Homo sapiens: one gene and its partners. The protein of the gene in region 1 purifies or fractionates together with the protein of each later gene. This does not show direct contact. Each region holds a gene or a part of one and is shown in the gene's direction. Other genes may lie near its edges. The genes, in order: GFM2, CZIB and ACAD8.

Region 1 (3,655 bases):
ATAATCAGAGAGGAAGAGGACTTGCTTTTATATATTTTTTACATGATTTAGTTTTTACATGGTATGGTAGGAAAATCAGAGTATACAAATGAATCAATAAATTTTACTGCCAATTAGAAATTACCAAGTTAATATGTGGATGCTTAGCTTTTTATGCTTAATTCTATACATTTACATAACAATGCATTTTGGTTGATACAATGTTTTGTAATTTCAATAAGTTGATTTCTACTGTATCGCCATATCTTTCTTTAAACATTACATTGACAAATAAGGGACATTTTAAACCTAAAAACCATATTTCTCATATTTAATCAGAATTTTCCATTTTCTGAATGATGCATTGAATTTTTGGTAGCTAAAAATATTGTTCCAACTTTTTAAAAGTAATACATTTTACCATACATATTACATATGTCTAACTTACATATGCCTTGCTGACATGTAATACATAAGTTTAGTTTTTTGATTTTGTATATTTATTTTTTCAGACAGTAACAGTTTGGAGGATCAAGATGTTGACCAACTTGAGGATATTTGCAATGAGTCATCAGACAATACCCAGTGTGTATATTAATGTAAGCATTTCTTATAAAATTAAGTGTCCTTTAACAACCTCAGCTCCTTTACTGCCTAAAATGCCCAGTATATCTCATCAGCTGTTGATTCCAAATTTAGTTGAGTCATAACCTTTGGAAATCTTCAAGCTAAACTAATTTGAAAGTAATTACCTTAATTTATTAAGAAATATAAGAGGAAATTACCTTAATTTAAAAGTAAAAGAACAGCTGTAGCTAAATACTGGTCTCATGGAGTACTAAAATGCCAGTTGTTTTTGAAGGAGGGGTAGGGTTTTATATCTAAGAATGTCATCACTTAATGCACATCTTTAAACTACTAACAAATAATGTGCTTTGTAATATTAAGTATCCATGGATTGAGACTCTTATGAAATAAAGTTTCTGTTAATATCAAAGTACAACATAATTATACAATGGTTGATACAACTACTTTTGGCTGTCTTCTGCAGAGCTGTTGGAAGCCAGCTTCTTCGGCAGTCTGATATTTGTCTCAGGAACATTGTTTTAGTCTTTAGCTCTGGTCTGACTCCTGAATCCTCTTCAAAACACTATAAATTATTTTCTAAACTATCACATCTTCAGTATACTTAAAGATATTAAATCTCAAACATAATAATACCCTTTTTATCTATAGCTAAGTGAGAGATTACTTTAAAGCTTGTTTGGGTTGTTTCTTTTTATCTTCAGTGACTTAACAGGGAGTACAATAGTTTCCCCTTATTCATGGTTTTGCTGTTTAGCTGTTTCAGTTGCTCAGAGTCAACTGTGGTCTGAAAATTAAATGGGAAATTCCAGAAATAATTCATAAGTTTTAAATTGTGTGCCATTCTGAGTACTGTGATGAAATCTCATGCCATCCCACTTAATCCCACCTGGGAGGTGAGTCATTCCTTTGCCCAGCATATCCACATTGTATACACTCCCCACCCATGAGTCAGTAGCCATCTGGGTTATCAGATTCACTGTTGTGATACTGCAGTGCTTGTGTTCAAGTAACCTTTATTTTACTTAATCACGGTCCCAGAGCGCAAGAGTAGTGATGCTGGCAATTTGGATGTGCCAAAGAGAAGCCATAAAGTGCTCCCTTTAAGTGAAAAGGTGAACATTCTTGGCTTAATAAGGAAAAAAACAAATCATATGCTGAGGTTGCTAAGATCTATGGTAGGAATGAATCTTCTATCCATGAAATTGTGAAGAAAGAAAAAGACATTTTTGCTAGTTTTACTGTTGCACTTCAAACTACAAAAATTATGGTCACATAACATGATAAGAGCTCAGTTAAGATGGAAAAGGTATTCAGTTTGTGGGCAGAAGACATGAACAGAACCATGTTCTGATTGATAGTAATTAGGTTCTGTACTATCTGAGGTTTCAGGAATCCACTGGGGGTCTTGGAATATAACCCCTGTGGATAGGGTGTGACTGCTGTATGGGAGAACCTGTAACCCTTAAGAAGCCTTACCATTCGTCTACAGTTTTTTTGTTGTTGTTGCTAAGAAGCCTTACCATTCATCTACAATTTTTTTTTGCTACTTTAAAAATCACCTGAGCAGCATTTTGAAGAAGATATATTTCTGTATTCCATTTGTGATCTCATTAAGTGGCCCAAGGAGTTACCCAGTTTTTCTTCAGTGCTTTTATTGCTGACGCTTTCAGACTATGCACGCTGTGATAGACACTGGGTCTTATCCTAGTCATTATGCAGTGGAATTATTTTCTGAGGATAGTAGCTTATTATTGCCAGAAACTTGGTAACTAATGTAGAAATAATATAGATCGCACAGATACGCAGTTCATGAAACAAAAAGCAGATTGTGGTGGCCCTAAATCATTACATACACTAACAATTCCAACTACATTGGCAGCTATTAAATGTATATCTAGTGGTCTGGGCATAAACTGAGGTGGAGAATATTCAGCCTTTACATGAGAACATGAGAAGGTTAGGTAAGCAGCTAAGGTAGAGGAGGTAGGCTTGGCCTTAAGCAGACCTGCTCTAACTCAGTGATTCTCAGTTGAATGCTACATTGGAGACACCCTGGGAATTTTTTTTAAATGCCACTGCCCAGTTCCTCCAGTTCTCATTTTCTCTCCCCACCCCCGTGTCTTCAAGAAGCTTTCCAGATGATTCTAATGTGTAACTGTAATAAATCCTGAAAACAACTAATGGTTTTAGAGTTCATTGCCCCCTACAGACCTTTCAGCAGATGTAGAGGAAAACCAAGGTGTATCCTGGGTGAGATACCTTATTTAACCTTTCTGACTCAGCTTCTGACTTTCAGAACTTTAGGGTTGTGGTTCTCAATCTGTAGCTATTAGAATCAACTGGAGAGCTAGTTTAAACAGATTGTTTGGCTCCATCCCCAAGAGTTTCTGATTCTCTTGTCTGGATTGGAGCCTAAGCATGTTTTTCAAACAAGCCCTCAGCCCATGCTAATGCTGCAGGTTGAGGAAAACCATTGTTTTAAGGTCAGCTCAAAATAGCAAATCAGTATTAATTTTATCCTTATTCTTTCCCCTAGGATATATTTGGATTGTCACTTTTTAAAAGAATTGGAGTTAATAAATTAGGACTACTTTAAAGCTATACAAAATATTTTATCTTCTGACAAAGCGTAATTACAATATTAACACTGTAATAAGTGATGCTAAAATAAAATTAATGCCAAGTTTCTTTTTCTCTTTACTAGAATATATGCTGCTATAAAATAAGAGCAAGTTTAAAAAGATTAAAGCCACATGTGCCGCTTGGAAGAAATTGCAGTTCTCTACCAGGTACAAATGTTAGAGTCTTCTAATTTTATCTAAGCTGTTTGCTTTATCTCTTTTCTCTCTCTTGTTTGCAAGAATCTCCCTTATTAGGGCTCTGTAACCATTTTTTACTTCTTGGCTATTTCCTTGAGATTATTAGGGGCGGGAGTGTTCAGATAGGTGCCAGAAGGAAATACTAGTAGAGTTGTGCTCCTTATCTGAGGAACACGCTGATGAACTGAGCAAAGGAAAGGTTGGTGGCTTTAGTAGCTAGTTTGCAAGTTTAACATGTGAGTGTAATTGTAGAGTGCTCTTGTGAATTT
Region 2 (4,191 bases), on another chromosome or scaffold:
TATTCCTTATTTGGTATTTATTTAAAGTATCTTGAGTTGTGCCAAATTCTTGGCTTTGTCCTGAAGTTAAAGAGAAATTAAATGAGGACTCGCCTTCACGTACATAATAATCTAGTGGAAAATACAAAAAACAAGAATCGAACTAGGGCCCTAACAGAGAAGTGCCTTACCAGTGCCAGAGATGTGGTCAGTGTGCAGGAAATTACTTTACAGTGAATGACAGGATGAGACTGAATGTAGGGCATGGCACTTGTGGTCCCTAAGCCCATAGGTCAGGTAGGCATGAATTTCCTGGCCACCTGCCCCCCAAGAGGTGCCCCCTCCACATACATAACCATTTCAAAGGCTATAAGACAGCCCTCTGCCCTTACTGCATGGCAGATGGTCAGCAAAAGGCTATGGTTAAGTGTACTGGGTCTGTTTGGATGATCTAGAGACTTTGGAGCTTAACATTCTTGTTCATATTTTTGGTGTTGATAATTTTATTTACTATTTATTGAGCACTGTGCTGGGCACTTTATATGCATTTCAAAATCTGACAGTAAAATTGTAGAGGTTTCCTCGGCTCTATTTGACAGTTTAGGAATCTTGGGCCCAGAGGGGAAGATAGGCAGAGCTTACCTTACATCCAGGCAGGTTGACCCCAGCATCCACGCTCTTCTGCAGCCTCCATGTCTGCTGTCTACAGAAAGCTTCATAGGGAGCAGGTGCCCAAGGCAGGCTTCCTCTAAGAAGGGGATGAGTTCTTCCTGGGTCTCATACTAGGCCTCCAGGGGCAGTAAGTGCCCATTTGGCAGGAAGGAGAGGGGCCATGGGGTCATCCTGAGAGCTCATTTGGGCCTGCCTCCTCAACACACTTCCTTTCTAGGCTGAAGACAATGAGAACTTCAAGACAATAGTGGAGTTTGAGTGCCGGGGCCTTGAACCAGTTGATTTCCAGCCGCAGGTGTGTGTGTATCTTTCTGGGGAATCTTTGTCTTTGGGGAGGGGATGTATGAAGTGACAGCCAGAACTGTGCTACCTACAGATACCATGGACTAGACATTCTCCTTTCTAGCGGTAGTAATAATTGTCCCTTAAGTGGCTGCTGTATGCTTGGGCACCCATGCCATCATTTTTACATGTTACCACATTTAATTCTTATGGTAACCCTATGAATTTATTCATCCTGTTCTTCAGATGAGGAAGGAACTGAAGAGATTTTGCAACTTGCTCAGGGTCACACAGTAAGCAGTGGAGCTATAGTTTCAACCCAGATCTATCTGACTTGAGCTGGTGCTCATCCCCCTTTATTTGTGCATGTTTCACCTCACAACAAATCTGTGAGGTAGGCAGAAGAGCAAATACTTCATCCCCGTTTTATCAATAACTAAGGTCCAACCTGGGAAATGACATGCCCAGGAGCCTTCAGCAAACCAGGGCTAGTGGAAGGGATTACGCTGCCCCTGCTGCCTTCTGGTCCAAGGCTGTAATTCAGAGAAACCACCACTCTAGTTCTGAGGCAGCTGCCGGGTCCTGGAAGCTCAGCAGTTATTCCAAGACAGGTACTCATACTGCATCTCTGTCCTCCATCCCAGAAGTGTGAGAAGAGCCAGCAGCCTGGCCGGCCCTTACTTATAGCCCAATGCCTTCTTTTGCCAAGACTAACTGGTACCTTCTTGTGCCCTGCAGGCTGGGTTTGCTGCTGAAGGTGTGGAGTCAGGGACAGCCTTCAGTGACATTAATCTGCAGGAGAAGGTATGAGACTTGGGGGCTTTGGGAGGTACTGTAGGGCACCTGGTGGGAATTATTTTTTTGGTGGACAAGGCTCATCAATGGAAAGCCAACTCTGTATTTTTGTGCTTTTTGTTAGTGATTTTGCTGTTGAAATGGCCACAGGTATAGTGCTAAAGTGCTTTCTAATGTTCCTACGTATGAGAAAGCTATGATGCCCCTTACAGAGAGAATACGTGTTAGATAAGCTTTATTCAGGCATGAGCTATAGTGCTGCTGGCTGTGAGTTCATGAATCAACAATATATATTAAATAAGTTATCTTTAAACAGAAACACATAAAGCTAGATTATTGATTGGTTGATGAAAATGTGACCAGAGGCTCATAGGAACCTAACCCTGTATTTCCCCGGGGAGTATTCATTCAGTATTCCCTAATTCAGTGTTTGTGGTGGCTTTACTGCACCTAACTACCATGAAGAACAAGAAATAGTCTGTATTACTGGACATATTACTACCCTGCAGATAGAAAAGCCTTGTGCTCAAGCCTTGAAGGAAGGACAAAAACTTCATTTCATTTGCTCAGCACCTAATAACAGCAGCTAGCATCTACTGAGCTCTTACATGTGCCAGGCACTCACTATGCTGAGTGCTTTTATTTTATTTTATGTATTTTTTGAGACAATCTCACTCTGTCGCCCAGGCTGGAGTGCAGTGGTGCAATGTCAGCTCACTGCAACCTCTGCCTCCTGGGCTCAAGTGATCCTCCTACCTCAGCCTCCCAAGTAGCTGGGATTACAGGCGCCTGCCACCATTCCTGGCTATTTTTTGTATTTTTAGTAGAGACCGGGTTTCACCTTGTTGGCCAGGATGGTCTCGGACCCCTGACCTGAAATGATCCACCTGCCTTGGCCTCCCAAAGTGCTGGGATTACAGGCATGAGCCACCACGCCCGGCTGCTGAGTGCTTTTAAATGTGTTACCTCATTTGATTCTTTCAACATTCAATATGAACTCCATTGTCCTTTTTTTGTTTTTGTTTTTTTTAAATAGAAGACAGGACTCGGAGAAGGGACTCAGAGAAGTTAAGTGATTTGCCCACAGTCATACAACTGAAAGAGCTAGAATTCAGGCCTGAGCTATCTGGCTCTGTTCAGGGTCATACATGTTCATGATTATTTGAGTCAGAGCCTGAGCTGGGCCTTTTAAGTCCCAGTTTTCTGCTCTCCACATGGCTGCATTCTGCGTTGTGAGGCTAACAATGCCATTTTGTTTCCCAGGACTGGACTGACTATGATGAAAAGGCCCAGGAGTCTGTGGGAATCTATGAGGTCACCCACCAGTTTGTGAAGTGCTGATCCCTCTTCCTTCCCAGTTGCCCTTAAGAACTGAGAAAGGACAAAGTACTCTAAGCAGCAGAGCCCACAGAGGCTCGTTCCTTTGACCCTTGTCTCCTGGTGGCTATACGAAACCTTCACAATCTGCATGCTGGACTTTATTACAGCTTCCCAAGCCCCATCAATAAAGCCCCTGTTCACGCTGCACTGGTGCATGAAGGTGAAGTAAGGAGGCAGCTACTCCCTCCACAAATAAGAATTCGTGCAGCAGCAGTTCACTCCTTAGGAAAATGAAGAGTATTTTTAAGGAGATGGTATCTCCCCAGTCAAGGGCAAGTTTACAGAGATGAAACCGCGATCCCACCATCACTCAATGAGCCAGAAGCCAATGGTGACGTACTGTTACCTGAACTTACTGAACTTGCTGTTGGAAAGATCTTTGTGAGGATTAGGAATTAGGTTAAAAGAAATTAAGAACCATCTTCAAGCAAAAATTAAACTTTATTTCTGCTTAAACAATAAATACACCTGAGTTAGTTTTCCAAACCTTTCCTCCTGATTAAATGCCCTTAAAACTTAAATCTCTTGTTATCTTCAGTTGTGATCTAGTCCCAAGTGGAAATTACGTTTAGCTTTAAAACCATGAATTTAAAGCTCAAGCCTGTAGCTGGCTGCCTAGGCAGCTTATGATTAGTTTCACAGAATAGCACCCACTGGCTACACAGGCCCCAGTTTTTTTTTCTTTTTTGTTTTTTTGAGACAGTCTCGCTCTGTCGCCCAGGCCGGAGTGCAGTGGTGTGATCTCAGCTCACTGCAACCTCCACCTCCTGGGTTCAAGCAATTCTGCTTCAACCTCCCAAGTAGCTGGGATTATAGGCACATGCCACCACACCCAGCTAATTTTTGTATTTTTAGTAGAGACAAGGTTTCACCATGTTGGCCAGGTTGGTCTCAAACTCCTGACCTCAAGTGATCCACCCGCCTCAGCCTCTCAAAATGCTGGGATTACAGGCATGAGCCACCATGCCCGGCCTCCCAGTTTTCATGATGAGGAAGTGATGGTAGCTTTTCATCTGCCCAGAAGTTAACTTTTGATGGATTTGCCTTCTAAGGCATCAAACATGTCTTCTAAGGCCTTCTCCA
Region 3 (2,943 bases), on another chromosome or scaffold:
AGACCGCTGCTTTCTTCTGCAAACCTCATTCCAGAAAGATGTTTATGGGCTCAGTCGCCAGTGTTCAAACTGAATTCCCGAGAGTCGTTTTCCTTCCATTACTCTTGGAATTGCTTTCTCACTGAGCTTTATGTGCGTAGGAAACTTCGCCTTCATTCTAACTCTCTCTCCACCCTGCAATAATAAGCAGGAAAACATTTATTGTAGGCCACACCATCACCCACTTACAGAAGAATTGGGGCACTCATCACTGTATCACTTTGTTTCATCATGGACTTTACTGTTGGATAAATCTACAGTTTATGCTTTATTTGAGACGATGTGACTACTGATTCCTCGAGGGGGTTTATATTTCTTTTTGCATTAAAGGCCACTGCTAAAAATGAAGCAAATAATTGATACCCTCCTTTCAGGGAAAATGTTTTCATTCTTTTGTAAGTCAGTTTTCTGATTACCAAAGAAATGTGTATTTATTGTTGAAACCTTATAAAATTAGGAAAAGTAGGCTGGGTGCGGTAGCTTATGTCTATAATCGCCGCACTTTGGGAGGCTGAGGCGGGTGGATCGCGTGAGGCCAGGAGTTCGAGACCAGCTTGGCCAACCCGGTGAAGCCCCGACTGTCTAAAATTATAAAAAGTTAGCTGGGCGTGGTGGTGCATGCCTGGAATCCCAGCTACTCGAGAGGCTGAGGCAGGAAGATCGCTTGAACCCAGGAGGTGGAGGTTGCAGTGAGCTGAGATTGCACCATCGCACTCCAGCCTGGGTGACAGTGAGACTCCATCTAAAAACAATACAAAAAATTAGCCGGGCCTGGTGGGGCCTGGTGGCACATGCTTGTGGTCCCAGCTACTCAGGAGGCTGAGGCAAGAGAATTGCTTGAACCTGGGGGGCGGAGGTTGCAGTGAGCCAAGATCACACCACTGCACTCCAGCCTGGGCGACAGCAAGACTGTCTCAAAAGAAAAGTAAAAGAAAAAAAATCACTCATGTTTCTACATCCAGAATGTTATTTTGGTACATCTCCTTTTAGGCATTTTACTCTGCCTTTGTTGGTACATTTTTAATTTTAATTAGAATTATCCTGTATATACTGTTTTTATTCTGCCTTTTTAAACTTTATATAAGCATTTTTACCATCAGAAGAAGTTTTTAAAAAAGTATTATTTCCTGACATTTTTCAGTACTTTGTAGAGAAGTCTCTGATAATCTCATCTCTCCCAGGCTAAAAGCAATGATTGTAGTTTAAATCTGCAGCTACTCTGAACTAGGCCTGGAGCAGCCTGGTCAGAGCTTTACTAAACTCTCAGACTTTGCTGCTGTGAAATTCTTCCTCCTTCCTCCCTCTTACAGGTAGCAATGAAGTGATGAGGATACTGATCTCTAGAAGCCTGCTTCAGGAGTAGAACCCACACTTGTTCTGGCCTGGTGTTCAGTGCGACTGCAGTCAGTGTTGAGTGGTGCCATGTGGGCCGCTCTATTCCAAAGGAATCATGGATTAGACCCAAGGGCTGAGCTCCTCTAGGGCAGGACCTGCACCCTGTGTGTTGGCACCAGCATCGGGTCTTGGACTGGGGCAGAATCCCCAGTGGAACCGGAAGAGCTGGACTGATGAGAAACATCAGAAGAACACATACTACCTTGTTTTCCTAATGCCAGAAGGGTGACCAGTGAAGATTCACCGTCAAACCATGAAAGTCCTTTCTTGGATCCACTTTATCTTGATTAGTCTGCATTTTACTAGTTCACTGGATCCCTCCTCTAGGGGCCTGGGGACTTTCACTGATGCTCTTCCTGATTCTAGAGCAAAGGTGTGGGAAGGGGAAATGGAGGAATGCCCTCCTGTCTGTGTCGTTCTCTGTGCCACAGCTACAGATGCAGAAGGTTTCTCTGGATAGCACACCTCTGAATGTAAATCATGATAAAATGGATATTTGGAAACTTACTCCTAAGCTGTGATTTAGGGTGTATTTCTACTTCTGGACTGCCTCAATATCAAGGGCTGAGACTTTTGAATTTTGAATATTCGTTGGGTTTCATGTTAAGAAGCCTGTGGTCTAGGAGTGCTATTCAGTGTTTCTTTTCCTGATAAACACTTTGAATATTTTTTTTGTGTTTTTGTTTCCTTTTCTGAAGCTGTTCCTCCTTTTAAATATTTTTAATCACATTGATAAAATCTATCCTTCACCACCTCTGGTTCTACTATAGTTGATTTTTATTTTAAATGTTTAATTGTATTTGATTAAACACTTAACTGGATTTTGGAATAATAAAACTCTCGTCCAATTTGGCTTTTAAAAAGCAGGCTCCTTAAATTATTAATAACTTTGCAAACTAAGCATTGTTTATGATGTATGAAAGTAGAATTAAAGTGAGATTCACAGATGGGACTTCAGGAGACCTTGTTTTGTTTGTTTGTTTGCTGTTTTTTGTTGTTTTTGAGACAGAGTCTCGCTCTGTCGCCCAGGCAGGAGTGCAGTGGCACAATCTCAGCTCACTGCAACTTCTTCCTCTGGGGTTCAAGCGATTCTCCTGCCTCAGCCTCACAAGTAGCCGGGACTACAGGCGCAAGCCACCACGTCCGGCTACTTTTTGTATTTTTAGTAGAGACAGGGTTTCACCATGTTGGCCAGGCTGGTCTCAAACTCCTAGCCTCAAGTGATCTGCCCACCTCGGCCTCCCAAAGTGCTGGGATTACAAGTGTGAGCCACTGTGCCCAGCCAGGGGAGCTCTGTTATAACTTACTATGTTACTCCATCCCCTCATCCCTATTGAAAAGAATACGCAAGACATTAACTACAAGCCAATGTTTAGAGAGAAGAGAATATGTGTCTGTAACAACAACAAATACTGTCTTTTTTGAATGAAGGAAGTTTTGGGTGCTGCAGGAGGACAGGGTGTGGGCACACTACAAAGTTTAAAATGTATTCCTGCCGCCCAAGGCCTT

Evidence for each region.
Region 2: the proteins of GFM2 (region 1) and CZIB fractionate together in Homo sapiens (co-fractionation; one large-scale study listed by BioGRID). This does not show direct contact.
Region 3: the proteins of GFM2 (region 1) and ACAD8 fractionate together in Homo sapiens (co-fractionation; one large-scale study listed by BioGRID). This does not show direct contact.

What each region holds. Positions count from the first base shown.
Region 1 is NC_000005.10:74,760,603-74,764,257, reverse strand, and holds part of GFM2 (ribosome-releasing factor 2, mitochondrial), read left to right. Parts: intron 1-491; coding exon of another isoform or gene 492-515; coding exon 516-578; intron 579-3,271; coding exon 3,272-3,356; intron 3,357-3,655.
Region 2 is NC_000001.11:53,213,537-53,217,727, reverse strand, and holds the end of CZIB (CXXC motif containing zinc binding protein), read left to right. Parts: intron 1-868; coding exon 869-946; intron 947-1,671; coding exon 1,672-1,737; intron 1,738-2,991; coding exon 2,992-3,069; 3' UTR 3,070-3,629; downstream 3,630-4,191. Other genes in the region: CPT2 (carnitine O-palmitoyltransferase 2, mitochondrial isoform 1 precursor), read right to left, coding at 4,133-4,191.
Region 3 is NC_000011.10:134,263,559-134,266,501, forward strand, and holds the end of ACAD8 (isobutyryl-CoA dehydrogenase, mitochondrial), read left to right. Parts: exon of another isoform or gene 1-387; intron 388-1,349; coding exon 1,350-1,402; 3' UTR 1,403-2,297; downstream 2,298-2,943.